3 separate regions of the Homo sapiens genome follow, and all the other regions are reported to be linked to region 2. The links are microRNA targets in miRTarBase. Many come from high-throughput screens and were not tested one by one. Region 2 holds a microRNA gene; each other region holds the end of a gene's coding sequence. Distances are between the middles of the regions.

Region 1 (5,070 bases), 96 Mb from region 2:
CAATTTTGTTGGCAATATCCAAAGCATTGTAATCAGGAGCTAATGGAATATATGCCTTCCTCTCTCCGGGCCTGATCAAGGTGTTGACCTTGGCCGCATCAGTGTCATAGAGCTTCCAGCCTGTTTGATGTGGTGCTTACTAGCTTTAATATCCACAAAGAACACAAGCATGTTGTTGTCCTGTCTTCTTCCTGGCCAACTCAGTGGTCAGGGGAACTTGATAATGGCTTGTTTCCTCACTGCCTTCAGTGAGGAAGCCTTATTTAATTGTCTGTCTCTCCCCAGAGCCTAGAAGAATACTTGGCACATAGTGGGTATACAGTAAATAATTATTAAATATTTGAAATCTGAGATGAAAGTTAATGAATGTAGGTATGGGAATTGTACAAGGGATAGGAAGTACCTTGGAGAACTTCTGTAAGCTCCAGGCATATACTCAAAGATGGGAAGAGTAGGAATCAGCATTTTCAAAAGTCATTGGGGATGCCCATTTTTTTCTGTACTGTACAGGAAGAAGGGTTTGCCTGATCTTACACCATTGTTAGAGCTTGAGCTCTGAACAAGTGAAGGTTTACTCTTTGTTCTTTTTTTTTTTTTTTTTTTTTTTTTTTTCATTTCTAGGCCATTCCCCGATTTAACCAGAAAGGAGAAGTATATAAGGCACAGATAATGAATGTGAGCTGGTCAGCTGATCACAGAGTTATTGATGGTGCTACAATGTCACGCTTCTCCAATTTGTGGAAATCCTATTTAGAAAACCCAGCTTTTATGCTACTAGATCTGAAATGAAGACTGATAAGACATTCTTGAACTTTTTGAGCTTCCAAAGAGTATGTAAACCCTAGCTGTGCCAGCACATGTTCATCTTTACAATTTATATTGTAAATGATTTGTATCGTATGATTAAGGATCTAAGGCACAATATTTGTCACTGTTCTATTAGACTTTTTACTGAAAATGAATAATGGTGTAATGGTTCTCCTGGGGCTGTCACATTTTATAGGTCAGAGTGTGACTTCTTAATATGGTGCTGATGTTTTTGTGTCAATGGCTTGAAACTGGCAAGATTAACAAAATTAGGCCGGGCATGGTGGCTCACGCCTGTAATCCCAGCACTTTGGGAGGCCCAGGTGGGCGGATCACCTGAGGTTAGAAGTTTGAGACCAGCCTGGCCAACATGGTGAAACCTGGCCTCTACTAAAAATACAAAAATTAGCCGGGTGTGGTGGTGGGTACCTATAATCCCAGCTACTTGGGAGGCTGAGGCAGGAGAATCGCTTGAACCTGGGAGGTGGAGGTTGCAGTGAGCTGAGATCGTGCTATTGCACTCCAGCCTGGGCGACAGAGCAAGACGCCATCTCAAAAACAAAAAAACAAAATTCATGTTACTAAAAGACAGGTAGCCATATACAGACAGTATATGCCCTATTTTTTTTAACTGACTCTTAATGAAACTTTAATTTTACTTAATTAAGAAATGGAATTTATATACAAAAATATTTTCCATTTCCGTTATTATGCTAATTGTTGTATGAAATAAGTGCAATTATACTTCTCTTTTGAGATATCCAAGAGTATATTCTTGCTCTGTATAGAGAATATCATCTGATAGTGTCTTATTTATATTAATTAATGTCTTTGAAAAGGGAAAAGTATAAACTGGCCTTAAAATTGTCCAATTATAGTTTTATAACCAGTCTATTAAAGGTGTTTGTTTAAAATGGATATAGTTTTAGATTTGTGGTAATGCTTTGGTATTTTCTTGGGGAAGACCTTCACCTTTGCAAACTTCCCTCATGTAAGGAAGGTACTTTAAATGTAGCAGCCACTGACATTTCTTTTTTTAAAAAAAATTTGAGAAGTCTACTTCCTTTTAACTTTTTTGGTCTTCAGCTAAAAAATAGGATAAGAAATTAAGGTCTATTCCATTCTCCATATCCTGGGTAAGAATGTAAATAAGAGGAGAAGGAAGAGTCTAATAGTAATTATGGATATAAAAAATAAGAAATTTTGTATAGAAATGAAGGTTTCATAATGATCATTTTGTTAAAGGTCTACTTTAATCAGAAATAGCAACGAGATGAATGTATCCAACATTTCAATTTGCATTCGGAAATCCATGTTGTTTCTAATATTGTCCAGTTGAAAACTGTATGCCAAAATTAGTTGTTTAAGTGAAGTTTTGTGACAGAAAAAAGGTTGTTTTAATATCTACTTGGTTTTTCTCAAAATGGAAATAATTTTAAAATCAGGAAAGAATAAATCAGCCAGGTGTGATGACTTGTAACTGTAATCCCAGTTATAGGGGAGGCTGAAGCAGGAGGATCACTTGAGGCCAGGAGTTTGAGACCAGCCTGGGCAACATAGTGAGATCCCATCTCAAAAAACATTATTTTTAAAATTAGCCTGGTGGCTCACGCCTGTAATCCCAGCACTTTGGGAGGCCGAGGTGGCCAGATCACCTGAGGTCAGGAGTTCGAGACCACCCTGGCCAACATGGTGAAACCCCATCTCTACAGTTTTGTAAAAATACAAAAAATTACCTGGGCCTGGTGGCACACGCCTGTAGTCCCAGCTACTTGGGAGGCTGAGGCAGGAGAATTGCTTGAGCCCAAGAGGTGGAGGTTACAGTGAGCAGAGATCACACCACTGCACTCCAGCCTGGGTGGCAGAGCAACACTTTGTCTCAGAAAAAAAAAAAAAAACCAAAAAGCCAAGTGTGGTGGTGTGCACCTATAGTCCCAGCTACTCAGGAAGCTGAGACAAGAGGATCAATTGAGCCCAGGAGTTCAAAGCTGTAGTGAGCTGTCATTGTGCCACTATCCTCCAGTATGGGTGACAGAGTGAGACCTGGTCTCTAAAAAATAAAATAAAATAAAAAAAACAGGTCAAATAAATGCTGTTGTTGTAAAATTTCAGATAATACAAAGAGTTAACCAATAAAAGAAAAAGTCATTCATAATCTTACCACTATTAACATTTTGATGTATCTATCTGTATGTATGGCTATTCTTTTTTGTTAAAACATGATCATAGCATATCTACTATTTTATTATTTGATTTTTAAAATTTAACATTATATTATGGGTAACCTTACATGTCAATAAACAATTCCACATTGTCATGCTTTAAATGGCTGCATAGGCTGGGTGTGGTGGCTCACGCCTGTAATCCTACCACTTTGGGAGGCCAAGGCAGGTAGATCACAAGGTCAGGAGTTCGAGACCAGCCTGGCCAATATGGTGAAACCTCATCTCTATTGAAAATACAAAAATCAGCCAGGCACGGTGGCAGGCGCCTGTAGTCCACCTACTCGGGAGGCTGAGGCAGGAGAACTGCTTGAACCCAGCGGCAGAGGTTGCAGTGAGCCAAGATTGAGCCACTGCACTCCAGCCTGGTGATAGAGCGAGACTCTGTCTCTAAATAAATAAATAAATAAATAAATGTCTGCATAGTATTCCATTGTATGCATTTATTATACATTCAAACATTAAACATCTACCATACCAATCATGGTTCTAAGCATACAGTAGCCACCTTCATGCTTCCTTGATTGGGCTTACAGTCTAGTAAGGAGACAGATATTAAATAACTGCATAAAACACTGTTCTTGGTAGGTAATAACCCAGATGCTATGAGCCATCCAGTAAAGGTTACCGATCTTATCTGGAAGGATCAGAAGATGGATGTCCCATAATTTAACCAATTATCTATTGATAGGCATTTATTGAGTTTTAAATGAATAATGACATGATCAATAAAAATGTCCTCCTCACTTAAAGAATAGAAAAACCAGGAGAAGGGAGTTCTGAAATAAGTAAGTATGTAGGTCCAGCATCAATGGCTCAAGATACTCTATTCCCAAATAACCCTTAAGTTATCTGGTTCTATTCCAACCCTTGGGTATTACTATCTTCTCTTTGGTCTCATGCATTGAGAATTCAGCAAAGGATTTGTTCCCTACAGTGTGCACGGCCCTTAGGATAGCAGGATTCCCTGAAGAGGGCCAAAGGGGCAGGAGCGCAGCCTTAGTGGCAGTGCTGGTCCATGAGGCTCTACAAAGCAAGGGATGGGTGTTTGGGAGGAGGAAAAGGCTCTTGCTGTACTCCTAGAGGTTGGAATTAAAGTGGAAAAGCCAGAAAATTCAAGTCCTTTACTAACATGTCTGGAGATTAGAAGGTATATGTACATGGGGGAGAAGCCAAAATTATTGCTGCGAGTGGTCAGCAAGAAAATCAAGGCTCTTTTCATTATTTTGAGCATTCCTCTGATATTTGAAAAGGAAGTACAACAGGAAAGGAAGTCTGAGGATGGAAGCTAAAATTGGTATGAATTTATATTTTAGAGATCAAAATGTACCTTATGTTGAAACCTATGTAAGAAGTGATTATGTAGAAAGAGTGAAAGTGATAGCTCTTAGTCTGGAAAGCCCACTGGCTTGTTTGGGCATTTCTCATGGCTTCCCACTCAAAGTGGATCCCCAAAATCACTTGATGGATTTCCTTGCTGATTTCTAAGTAAACTATGGTTTAAGAAAGAAATGACAGGGCTCAGCACTGCCCTACAGTACCAAGAATACAAATGTTTCCATGAAGTCTTCAAAGGCATTTGTAAAATTCAGGCTGTAAGTGATTAGTTAGTTCATTCTGCACTTATTTATTAACTGTATATTCAGTTCCAGGCTCTAGGGTAGAGATTATGGATAAAGGTGAATTAGATAGATGAAGTTTTTGCCCTCACAGCAAAAGCTTTAGCCAATAATTAAAGCTATCACTGGAAGTGGGTCTGTGCCAATAACCTAGAGAAGAGCAGTGCTTTTAGAGTTGAGCTATATTCCCAATCAGTTCTTAATGGTGGTTTTACCCCCTTCCCTCTACACTGTCTTTTCTTGAGATTGGATCATGTGTGTGAACCCACATCATTTCCAGTCAAAATCACCAAGAGAGGCCGGACACAGTGGCTCATGCCTATAATCCCAGCACTTTGGGAGGCCTAAATGGGTGGGCCTCTTGAGTCCAGAGTTTGAGACCAGCCTGGGCGACCCCAGCTCTACCAAAAAAACCAAAAAAC
Region 2 (5,075 bases):
GAGAACCACGGAGGATCTGAGAGTGTTTCTTTCCACAGCATAACCTGGACCTTCCCCACAGGTACACTGTCTGATGTGTTTGATTACCCTGAGAAAGGCTTTATAGTTCTACCACAGTGCTTGGTGAAACACTATCAATAGGTAACTAGAAAACTTAGCAGACAACAAAATGAAAATGTGTATATACTTAGAAACAAAGACAGTTGAATAAGAAAATGATAATCATAATACTCATTACTCAGTTCTGAGCAAAACTGAAATAGTCATATAATATGCATACATGGTATTGCTCTAAACAAAAATAATTACTGTATTGGAAGAATGGGGAGTGAGATGTGTGTTGTGATGGTATAGTTAGACTGCTAAATCCTTATATTTCATAGTAGGAAGTCAATGAATACTCCCTCAAATTGAGAAACTGTGAAACTGACTATAGAGAATAAAAGCAGGGAAAAACACTCAAAAGGCTTCAAAGTGTTTCTTTCTGAAAAGTACATCATGGAAAAGCTGACAAGGTGAAGGCAGGGGCCAGATGGTTTTTGTTATTGTTGTTTTACTTGTTCTTGTTTTCTTGTAAGCCTTCTAATAATAGCTGATTTTTGAGCTATGTACAATCATTATTTTGGCAAGAACATTTTTTAAAGAACAGGTAATTTCTTCTCAAGAAATCATCTTGACTATAGCTGCTACAGCTATTTACAAAACGTACAGTTTTTTTTTCAGAAAATTAAACATTGAAATATTAGTATATATGTGATATAGTCATTCTTTTAGCATTTTTACCTTTCTGTACCACATAGGCTTAGAATAAGATCACATAAATGCTAATCTGTGGCAAGAAAATATGGGTCAGATTGTAGTGTTTCGCTTTTTTTATTGTCATAGAAAAATTATTCTTACATGATACTTGAGGAGTAGGAAATATTTATTCTTAGAAGTTAATTTTGTAACCTCCAAATTCCATATGCCTATAAATATCTAGATCTGGACCAGTTTAGTAAAAAAAGTTCTATTTTTATATATGTGAAATACACATGTATATTCCAAACTAAGCAAAAATAAAACATTAAATTTAATAAAGGGTTTTACTTGCTCTTTACTGAAAATGAATGCCACCGGGTGAATATTGCCCCATTTTTTTCTGTCCCTTATTCCCTGAGGCTATTCCAAAATTTCAATATAATGAAGTTAACACAATACAAAGTCCTCTCAGTGGCCGACTCACTCTAGAGACATTCCACAAGTATCCTAAGGAGATGGGGGAAAGATGGAGGGGAAACTGTTATTAGTAAGAACATATTTTCTTTCATTTATTTATAAAAACTTTCCAAAAAGAGAAAGAAATCCCACTCAAGCATAAATTAACTTCAGTTCATTTTAAAAGTATTTACTAAAAGCTGTCATAAAAATATATCAAATTCACTTTCTTCCATTACTTATGTTTTGAAAACTAAGTCTTTCATTTTGTTGTTCTCCTATTTAAATTATAGTAGATGTGTACAACATGAATAGACAGATGACAGCTGGATAATAGGCATCACAAATGCCTCTATGTTCACATTTCAGGAAAATTATGTCTTTCATAAGAAAATTCTGTGGGAGAACCAATAATACTGCCAGTTCTTCAGGTAGACTTTAAAAAGTCTTATCATATATTTCAAAACCAACATGTATGTATTTAATATTTACTTATCAACTTCTCTCCATATGCCAGTACAACGCCAACTTTTTTAGGAAAATCAACAAAGACCCTCATCTCCACCTTCCCTTCCTACATCTTAGTATCCCCTTCCAGCAAGCCTAATGGCCAAGAAAAACAGGGTTCAAGTTCCTGGCTCTGCCATTTTCTAGCTTTGTAATCACCAACGGATTACTTAACTTCTCTATGCCTGTTTCTTCAGCTGTACAATGGGGATAATATTATGCTTTCTCGTTGGGCATGTAAAGTACTTGGAAGAATGCTAGTAAAAAGTAATGTTATATGCATGTTCTCTTAAGGAGCTAAAGATCCATGAATAGATTTCAACTTGACATGCGCAAAAAATGCAATGTCTAATTTGAGCACCTTTGGTATTTTTGATGAATACCGAAGGTGTTCAAATTAGGCACTGCAATTTTATGCAAGCAGGGAAGATAAACTTGCAGAAGTGGAGCTGAGATTTTTAGAAGTTTGGAAGGGTTGGTTAGAATGATAGAGGGCAAGTTTTGTAGCTGCCTTATAAGGTCAAGTTCCCAATTTCTTCAGTCCTGGCCACTACCTTAGTGCCTCCACAAACACCCAAGATACAGCAGCATTGACAGCATTGACTAGGCTTGGTTCAAACACTGAGTCCTTTGAATTATTCTCTCACCACCAATTCATTTACATTTCAGTGATGCATCAGGCAAGGATACAGATGAACCATGTCACCTGCTTCAGCTTGTCCAAACTAAATAAAGTAGAACAAATAGAGTACAATAAAGGTTTGAAAAGCATAAAATACAGAAGATAATACAGATTGCATAGGATTATAAAATATAATTATACAGGATTATAAAATATAATTATACAGGATTATAAAATACAGAGATTTGCATAGCGAAAAAGCCTTCCTAAAATGCTGAGATAAAGATTATGTAAGTGATAACTGGTCAAAAAATAGGTGAATATCATGTGACATGTAGAGGTGGAGTGGGATGTCTTCAGAGGTTGTTATTCATTCCAGAGAGAGGAATTGTCCAATGGCAGCCAGAAGGAAGACCTGAGGCAGAAAAATTAAAACACCTCTCAAGAGTTCAGATGAGAAAGGCAGGCACATTAATTAGAAGCGTAATAATTAAAATGGACTCATGAGGACAACAATTTGAGCCATCTATGAATTGAATCAATGAGATCTGTAGTGAACCAAGCTTTAAAAAGAATTTAATAATCCAGCCTTGGGTGGCTGGTTGCATGTTGGTACCATATTTAAACACAAAAAATACCAGAGGGTAAATAGTTTCAAAGAGATGACAAAATTAATTTTGGACACTGTGGATTGAAATGTCTGCTGAACATGAAAAGACACCCAGTGGAAAGCAGTCTATATAGTTTTAGAGCTCTGCACAGAGAAGTAAGACAAATATCATGATTTGGAAATCATCAACATATAATTACATTTATTGAAGTTTAAACAAAGCAAACTAGAAATGAAAAGAGCAAAGAACCAAGGAAGAATCCTTGATAAAACATAATTTTTAGTGCTAAATAAAAGAAGGGAAGACTGTAAAGGAGAACTAGGATAAGATGAGTAGGACATAAAACAAAGAAGAATGATATCATAGAAATCAAGAGAAGGAAGTTTCAAGAAAGAGGAGGAGAATCAGAAAAAAAAAATTGTTCATTGGACCTGGCATGAAAAAGATCATCAGAAATTTTAAGAGAAACGTAAGTAGAGCCATAGGGCAGAAGAAAGAATGCACAAGATAGAAGAGTAAATAAGAGCCAGGAAAGAAAAGTTCAGGTTAAAAATGGGTGGAAAGCATGGAAATATATAGGGTACTGAAGGTCTTGATGATATGTAAAAATGAATCAGTTTGGTGTTAGTAAGGAAGTGTGAACACTGAAAGGACAAGTTAGAGTTACATGGTGGGATGTTGCCACGTAAGTTTCCAGAAGTAGAGCAATCTTGGTCATACTCAGGTCCAGCCTAACAAGAGGGTGCCAGGCAGAATTGGATATAAAAGTCACCAAACTAAAGGAACTATAAAGGCAGGGTCTGGAACAGGGTATTACCTGGGCAAAGAATGCGAAAACAATGATACTAGCATCTGGAATTAAGATAAAATAAAATAAAATAAAATAAAAAGAATAGAAGCTCCCGCCCAAACCCTCCATAATTGTGGAGGAATCACCAAAGGTTGACAAAACACAGTGACAAGAAAAAAGCAAAGGCTGTAATAAATAACATACGCCTCAAATAAGGGGAAATGTAATGGTGTATAATTTGTAAGAAGAGGGGTAACACATTTCCAAACCTGTGATATATGGGGAGCAGTATGAAAATGAGCAGCTTTTATTAAAAAGATTCTAATGTTACAGTTTGTTTCCTATTCAAATTAACAAATGGATGAACTCTCCTTGAAAAAACTGAAGGTGCTGGAAAATTTATTTGTAAGGGTGCACGTATTCCAAGAGGCTTAGAAGAAAAGATTAGCAGAGAGGGGCATGCCTGGACCATTAAATCAACAGAGTATGAGGATGAGACAGAAAGAGTACAGATGAATGAACATATTTTCAGAAAAGTATATTGTCAAACATTGTAGTAACTAGAAATAATGTTGTCAAGAGAAAATTCCTGTCAACTTTTATATCAGATTTTATTTTAATAGTAAATATATAAGCTTTGCTAGAAAAAGAACCTTGGGACTCAGGAGGAAGTTAATTAGCTTGAAGATTCCAAATGGAATTTGGGTTAAATTTTACCCAAGTACAAATATGATTCATGATTTATCACCCAGTCTAATATTCAGGAGACTTTGCCCAGGGTTCCAAACAAAACATTTTGTTTGTTTGTTTGGGGGTGGGGTTTGCAAAGATGAACTCCGAATGGAGAGGGTGCTTCCAGTAGGCGTGGGTCCCATGAAAAAGAGTCAGCACACATGTGTTCTGCTCAGAACAAGGACCATTCACAGGCAGAAGAGGCTTATCATTCAGTATTTGCCAAGCATTTATTATTTTCAAGTATGAGTACAATACGATGTAGAAGAGACTTGGAGTCTAGTTGGAGAAACTGCAGATATTTAAAAAATGACAACTCAAGGGAGTAGTTATAAAAATGAAATAATAAGCGCAAAAACTGAGACTAGGAAGAAAGCTCAGTAGTGAGGAAGAGGCAAAAGGAAGATCAGAAAATTAAAAACTAGCTATAACCTTAAGATACTATGCAATCCTGTTCTGTGTCAAACACTTTACACAAATTATCTCTTCAAAGAGAGGATGGGACTTGACTTACACATCAAGTAACTGGTAGTGAGTAAATAAACTGTGAAGAGAGGAAAAGAAACGTTTCCTCTAAAGGTTTTCTACACATATATTTAATTTATATTTTGATTAT
Region 3 (5,070 bases), not on the chromosome of region 2:
AAACGATACAGTACAGTAAATGGAAAATTAGCCTCTTTTGCCATAAATAGATGGTTCTAGTAAAAGTAAAAATAGGAAAACAAAACTATGATTAAAGTTTAGATGTAGATTCTGTTGCAAGCTGAAGGCTCTGAGCTCCAGGCTTGCTTCATGGGGGAAAGAAAAAAGTGAGATAATCATTTTTCAAGACATACTAGCACTAAGCTGAGACTTTTACTTTGATGTGTTCTCAGCACTGCAAGAGAAGTGGAAAGGGAGTATTTTTTCCTAAGGGACTGGGGAAAGGGAGGATATTGGTTTCCCTTGGGACAAGACTGGGGCTCGCTGCGGGGAGGCACGGAGGGGCCGGCCCTCATCCCTCCTCTCTCTGGTCTCTGCAGTGCCCGGAAACGCCCCATCCCCTACTATCGGCCCAGCCCCTCCTCATCCGGCAGCCTCAGCAGCACCTCCTCCTGGTACAGCAGCAGCAGTAGCCGCTCGGCCAGCCGCAGCTACTCCCGGAGCCGGAGTCGGAGCCGGAGCCGGAGACGGAGCCGGACCCGCACGAGCAGCAGCTCTAGCTCCCGCAGCCCTAGTCCGGGCTCCCGCAGCCGGAGCCGGAGCAGGAGCCGGAGCCGGAGCCGGAGCAGGAGCCAGAGCCGGAGCTACAGCTCAGCAGACAGCTACTCCAGCACGAGGCGCTAAGTGCCCCTGAGCCAGCTGCCCGTGGGGGCCCCTTCGCGCTGCCAGCCTCCCCCAACCACCTGCCCTCCCCGCCTTCTTGGTGACAAATAGTGAGGGCTCCTATACCTTGTCCTTCCTGCTTGCCTAGGGGAAGAGGAGAAGAGGGTAAGGGGGCTTCACTCTCTAGATCAGCCTGCTAGGAGCCTCTACCAGCATCATCCTGGGGCCCAGCTCAGGCCTGGGCATATGGAAAGAACCATCATCTTGTGGCACAAAAAAAGAAGAAAGAAAAGAAAACTTCAAGGTTTTGTGAGAAGCAATGGGTCTGTGACTCAAAAATTGAGCCCTGGCCAGGAAAATGTGGAGACAGTTCTTCTCCTCCACTGCTCACAGGAGGCCCGTGGTAATTCTCCCCACCTCCCCGGATGCCCCACTAGTCCAACTTCATGGCTGCACGTGGATGGACCCCCATGTCTGAGAGGGGTGAAAGAGGAGACCAATGGCAGTTCAGGTTCAAGATAACGGGGTCAGGCCTTTAACTTCCTCAAACAGGCCCAAGCAAAGGCTGGAAGACATTTGGGTCCTAGAAGAAGGGATATCCTTGAATACCAGATGGGGACGTTTGACTTGGTGGGAGGTGTCAGGAGATAGGAGTTGGTTAAGATGATAGATAGAAAAACGGAAGGGTTCAGCTGCTGCTCCCAATACCTCAGCATGGTAAGGGGACAGAGCCCAGCAGATCCCAGCTGTGAAGAGGCCACTGCATGGCTGACACAAAACACCTCTTGGCCATTCACAGGGGCCCTGCAACCTCACGAGAAAGGAGATAGTGGAAGAGTCAGGACAGGTTGGTCTCCAGCCCCACTTCCCAAATATGCCTCAGCCCCACTAGCTGGCACCAACTTAATTCCACGGGACCATCTGCTGAACATTCCCCAGTGCCATGGCCAGTTGCCAGGCCCCAGCGCCAGCCAGTCTGGCCTTACCCTCCGGTTGGCGCCTGCCAGCCCCCTCCCCTCTGCCCAGGCTGCCACGCCCTGGATGCCACCCAGTGCAGCCTGGCACCTACCCACCCACCCTTCAGCTTAAGCCACTCCCCTTGCCTCTCAGGAATTTTGCCAGGATGGGGCACAGCAGCTCAGGTTTGGGGGAAAAGACCCGAATCCAGAGTGCAGGGGAGAGGGGCTTGGATATGCCATGTCTTGGGCTCCTGCTGGCTTCTGAGGTTTCTTGTCAGCTTGGGAAAGACCCACCTTTATTTTTGCCCTCACCCCAAGTCCCCCCTGGCTGGGGCTGGGCAGAGAGGGTAAGCTGATCTCCGATCCACAAATACCACCAGCTGCTTCATCCACAGAAGGCGCTAAGAACGGGGAGGTGAGGAATAAGATCCTTAAAATAAACTCTTGGGCATCCCCCTCACCAGCTGACTGGCTTTCCGGAGGCTTGTGGGTGAGTTTCAAGTTTGTGGTGGCAACAGCAGCAGGACAGGGCACGGAGGGAGCGAGGGAGAGAGGACCGGTCCCAGCTTTTGGATATTTTGGGTTATGGGGAAGCAAGGGCCAAACATTCTTTATCCCTCCCACCCCAGGGAAAACATTTGGAAAATAGTCCTTTTTCTTGGAAGCAGTGACGTCTCCCTACCCAATCTTTCCCATCCTATCAACCCATGGGGCTAGAGACTGCCATGCAACCACCACCACGACAGCCCTTCCTCCATCAGAAGACAGGAGTGAGGGCCCCGGGCAGCAGTGGACGACCCAGCCTCCCCATACCGGGCCTCTGGCCCAGACCTAAGCCCTGCCCACAAAGACTAATGGATGCCAGTGCTGTCACTGCAGAAGGCCAGATGGCAGGTGCCTGGGACAGGGGCAGGTGCCCCGGGGAGGGCAAGTACAGCCACTGTAAATAACCCTCGTCCCTGCCCAGGAACCCAGACTGGACTTCAGTCTCCCTCCATGGAGACAAAGGCTTCCCAGAGCCACCAAAAACCTTCTTAGCAGGACAGCTGTGAGAGGCATCAGAACCTCACGTTCGGACTGCCTTCATCAAGACAACTCTAGGGGACCATTTTGCCTGGGGCTCCTAGCAAACCTTTTTATTTATTTTATTTATTTATCTATTTATTTATTTGATGACTGTCTCTCTTTCTCGCCATTAGCAGTATTGAATTATTTATTTATACAGAGGTTTTGTGTGTGTGTGTGTGTGTGTGTGTGTGTGTGTGTGTGTGTGTGTGTGTGTTGGGGGGATCTCCTAAATTATTTCTGTGCATCTCCTTTTTTTTTCTGCTGTTTTTTATGGATGGGATTTGAGAGGCCAAAGGTGAGTGGGCTATTGGCCTTCTCCCTGAAGGCTCTAAGCCTGGAACACCCTGGGGTTGGCCCAGAAGGAGGCACATCAGTCCCAAAATTCATCACTTAACCCAGCGTCCAGGAGGGTCAGGCCTGTACCCCAGCCTCCTGTCCCCCAGGAACCTCACAGGGGTATCAAAAAGATGTAAACAGCCCAGAGGCTTATGAGCTACAGTGATGAATTGACACAGTGGAGTTGCAACTTAGGTGGGGGTTGGAGTCGAAAGTTGGCAAATGGGGCCAAGGCTGCACAAAGTCGAAATCCCTTGTGAATGTCCCTTAGGGAGGCACCAGATTGGAGACAGATGTGCTATCTCCTAACAGAGTGATGAGGCTTCAGTTGAGTACTTGCTGAAGTAGTTGCCTTGTATTTTGAGGGCCATGGTGGATGAAAATGATGTCTGGTTTAGTACTGGAATTGCACTTGGGGTTGACAAGGTGCTCACACCATGAGAATGGAGGCAGGAATTGAGCTGACTGAGGGAAGATGCACCTTGATCTCACCCTCACTCCAAGGCACATAGCAGGATCACTCCCTAGCTTCTCTGAGCACACCTAGTTGGTTTCATGTATGTTACACATGCTTCCACTCCACAGTACCTAATTTCTCTCTGTCCCCTGAGATCTGAAGGCTACCTTGGGAAGAGGCATCAGCCATCTTGCTTGAGAACCACCAAGCCAAAAGCAAAAGCTTTTATCTATGATCTCTTGCTGTTTCATCAGGGGAAAGCACAAAGCTATTTCTGAAATTAGGAAAAAAAAAAAAAAGGTGGAAGGAGCAGCCAGATGTTCCACAGGACCCCACCAAGAAGGTCATTTCCAAACCCATCCTGGAAGGGCCCAGGATCCAAAGGTCATCAGTCCTGCTTATCTGACCAACTGGCAGTGTCTTCTGGCTGCTGGCCGGAGACAGCTCTTGCCCTTTCCAAAGTCACTGTCCACTGCCTTGCAATTGCCAGCTTGTCTGGTCCAGCTTTGGGTTTGGTGAGACTTTTGCAACATCCCTGGTTGTTTCCCTGGCAATGTGACTATCCAGCCCTAACCCAAAGCAAGGGAGTGCCCCTTTCCTGGGTGAAGTTTACAAGAAGGCTGCTTAAATGCCTGCTTCGGGGAAATCTCTGCCTCTCTCTCTCTCTGTCTCTCTCTCTGTCTCTCTCTCTGTCTCTCTCTCTCTCTCTCTCTCTCTCTCTCTCTCAGTGTATTTCTCTACTTTCTTTTACATTTCCTTTTTTTCTATCCAAAAACAATGTGCTTGTTGAGGCACTGGTAACCCTGATTAACCAGAACCTCCCATTCCCAGTATCGCTGTTCCTACGCCCATTTCACCCTCATTACCTTCTGCTTCCAAGGAATATGACAGATCACCAGGATGCTGCTCGTCGTGAGGATTTATCTCAAAAACCAACATCCAAAATGGGAGGGAGATGTGGCTTGAGGTCAAGCGCCATGCATCCCAAGCCTTTGACCTTCCCGCTATGGAAGTGCACTGGATGACAGAAACTGAATACATTGCTCCCTTTCCCTAGGGCAAAGTTCGACCTCTGTTAAGTGGAGGGATTTGTGAGATAAAAATTCAAAATGTTGGCCTGAGGCCTGAGAGTGTCACCAAAGACAGAGGGAGCTTCACTGAGACTCAGAGGGAAAAGGAAAAGAGCCTCAAACATTTTTAGGAGGTTGTCCATCATGAAAGTAAAAACGAAAAGCAAGATTTGATCTCCCTTCAGTTAATTAGGCAAGGCTAAGTAACTCAAAGCCCCCTATTAGTAACATTCTGGTTCACTGAGGTTTGATCATATTCCTATCTGCATTCCTTCCCTTCTTTGAAGGACAGCTGATCTTTCAGAAGCAGAATAAAATTAAGATGTTAGAACAAAGGTCTCAGTCTCAGAGAACCGCATCACTTCATTTGCTCAGACCCATCCTCTTTTGCAAAAGGGTCTGCTTGGAGAGGCCAAAATTCAGGGTGCTCTCAAAGGCAAAGAAAGCACATTGTTTTCCTTCTCCAGTCCAACTTTCATCTTTTCTTCTGCTGTTTTCTTTTCCCCTCTTCTTTTTC

The links. The annotated mature microRNA hsa-miR-4735-5p reads CCUAAUUUGAACACCUUCGGUA and lies in region 2 at 2,085-2,106, opposite strand. An mRNA with a match to its seed (bases 2 to 7 or 8) in the 3' UTR can be bound and repressed. Matches are read on the target gene's strand: a 7mer-m8 pairs with bases 2 to 8, a 7mer-A1 pairs with bases 2 to 7 and ends in A, and an 8mer does both.
Region 1: the mRNA of DBT is a reported target of hsa-miR-4735-5p. Seed matches in the 3' UTR shown: 7mer-m8 at 1,074-1,080, 7mer-m8 at 1,210-1,216, 7mer-m8 at 2,160-2,166, 7mer-m8 at 2,399-2,405 and 7mer-A1 at 4,712-4,718.
Region 3: miRTarBase lists SRRM4 as a target of hsa-miR-4735-5p. Seed matches in the 3' UTR shown: 7mer-m8 at 3,761-3,767.

Annotation. Positions count from the first base shown.
Region 1 is chr1:100,191,974-100,197,043 of GRCh38, reverse strand. DBT (dihydrolipoamide branched chain transacylase E2) reads left to right here. Exons shown (of 11, transcript NM_001918.5): 11 at 622-5,070. The coding sequence ends at 789. It also overlaps the pseudogene RPL23AP90. Among named protein-coding and RNA genes, the nearest start is that of LRRC39, 16 kb to the right of the region's middle.
Region 2 is chr1:196,580,369-196,585,443 of GRCh38, forward strand. It overlaps MIR4735 (microRNA 4735), which reads right to left and starts at 2,113; the gene lies at 2,045-2,113. All of the region lies in intron 1 of KCNT2 (potassium sodium-activated channel subfamily T member 2), which reads right to left.
Region 3 is chr12:119,156,115-119,161,184 of GRCh38, forward strand. It overlaps SRRM4 (serine/arginine repetitive matrix 4), which reads left to right. Exons shown (of 13, transcript NM_194286.4): 13 at 381-5,070. The coding sequence ends at 684. Among named protein-coding and RNA genes, the nearest start is that of HSPB8, 20 kb to the right of the region's middle.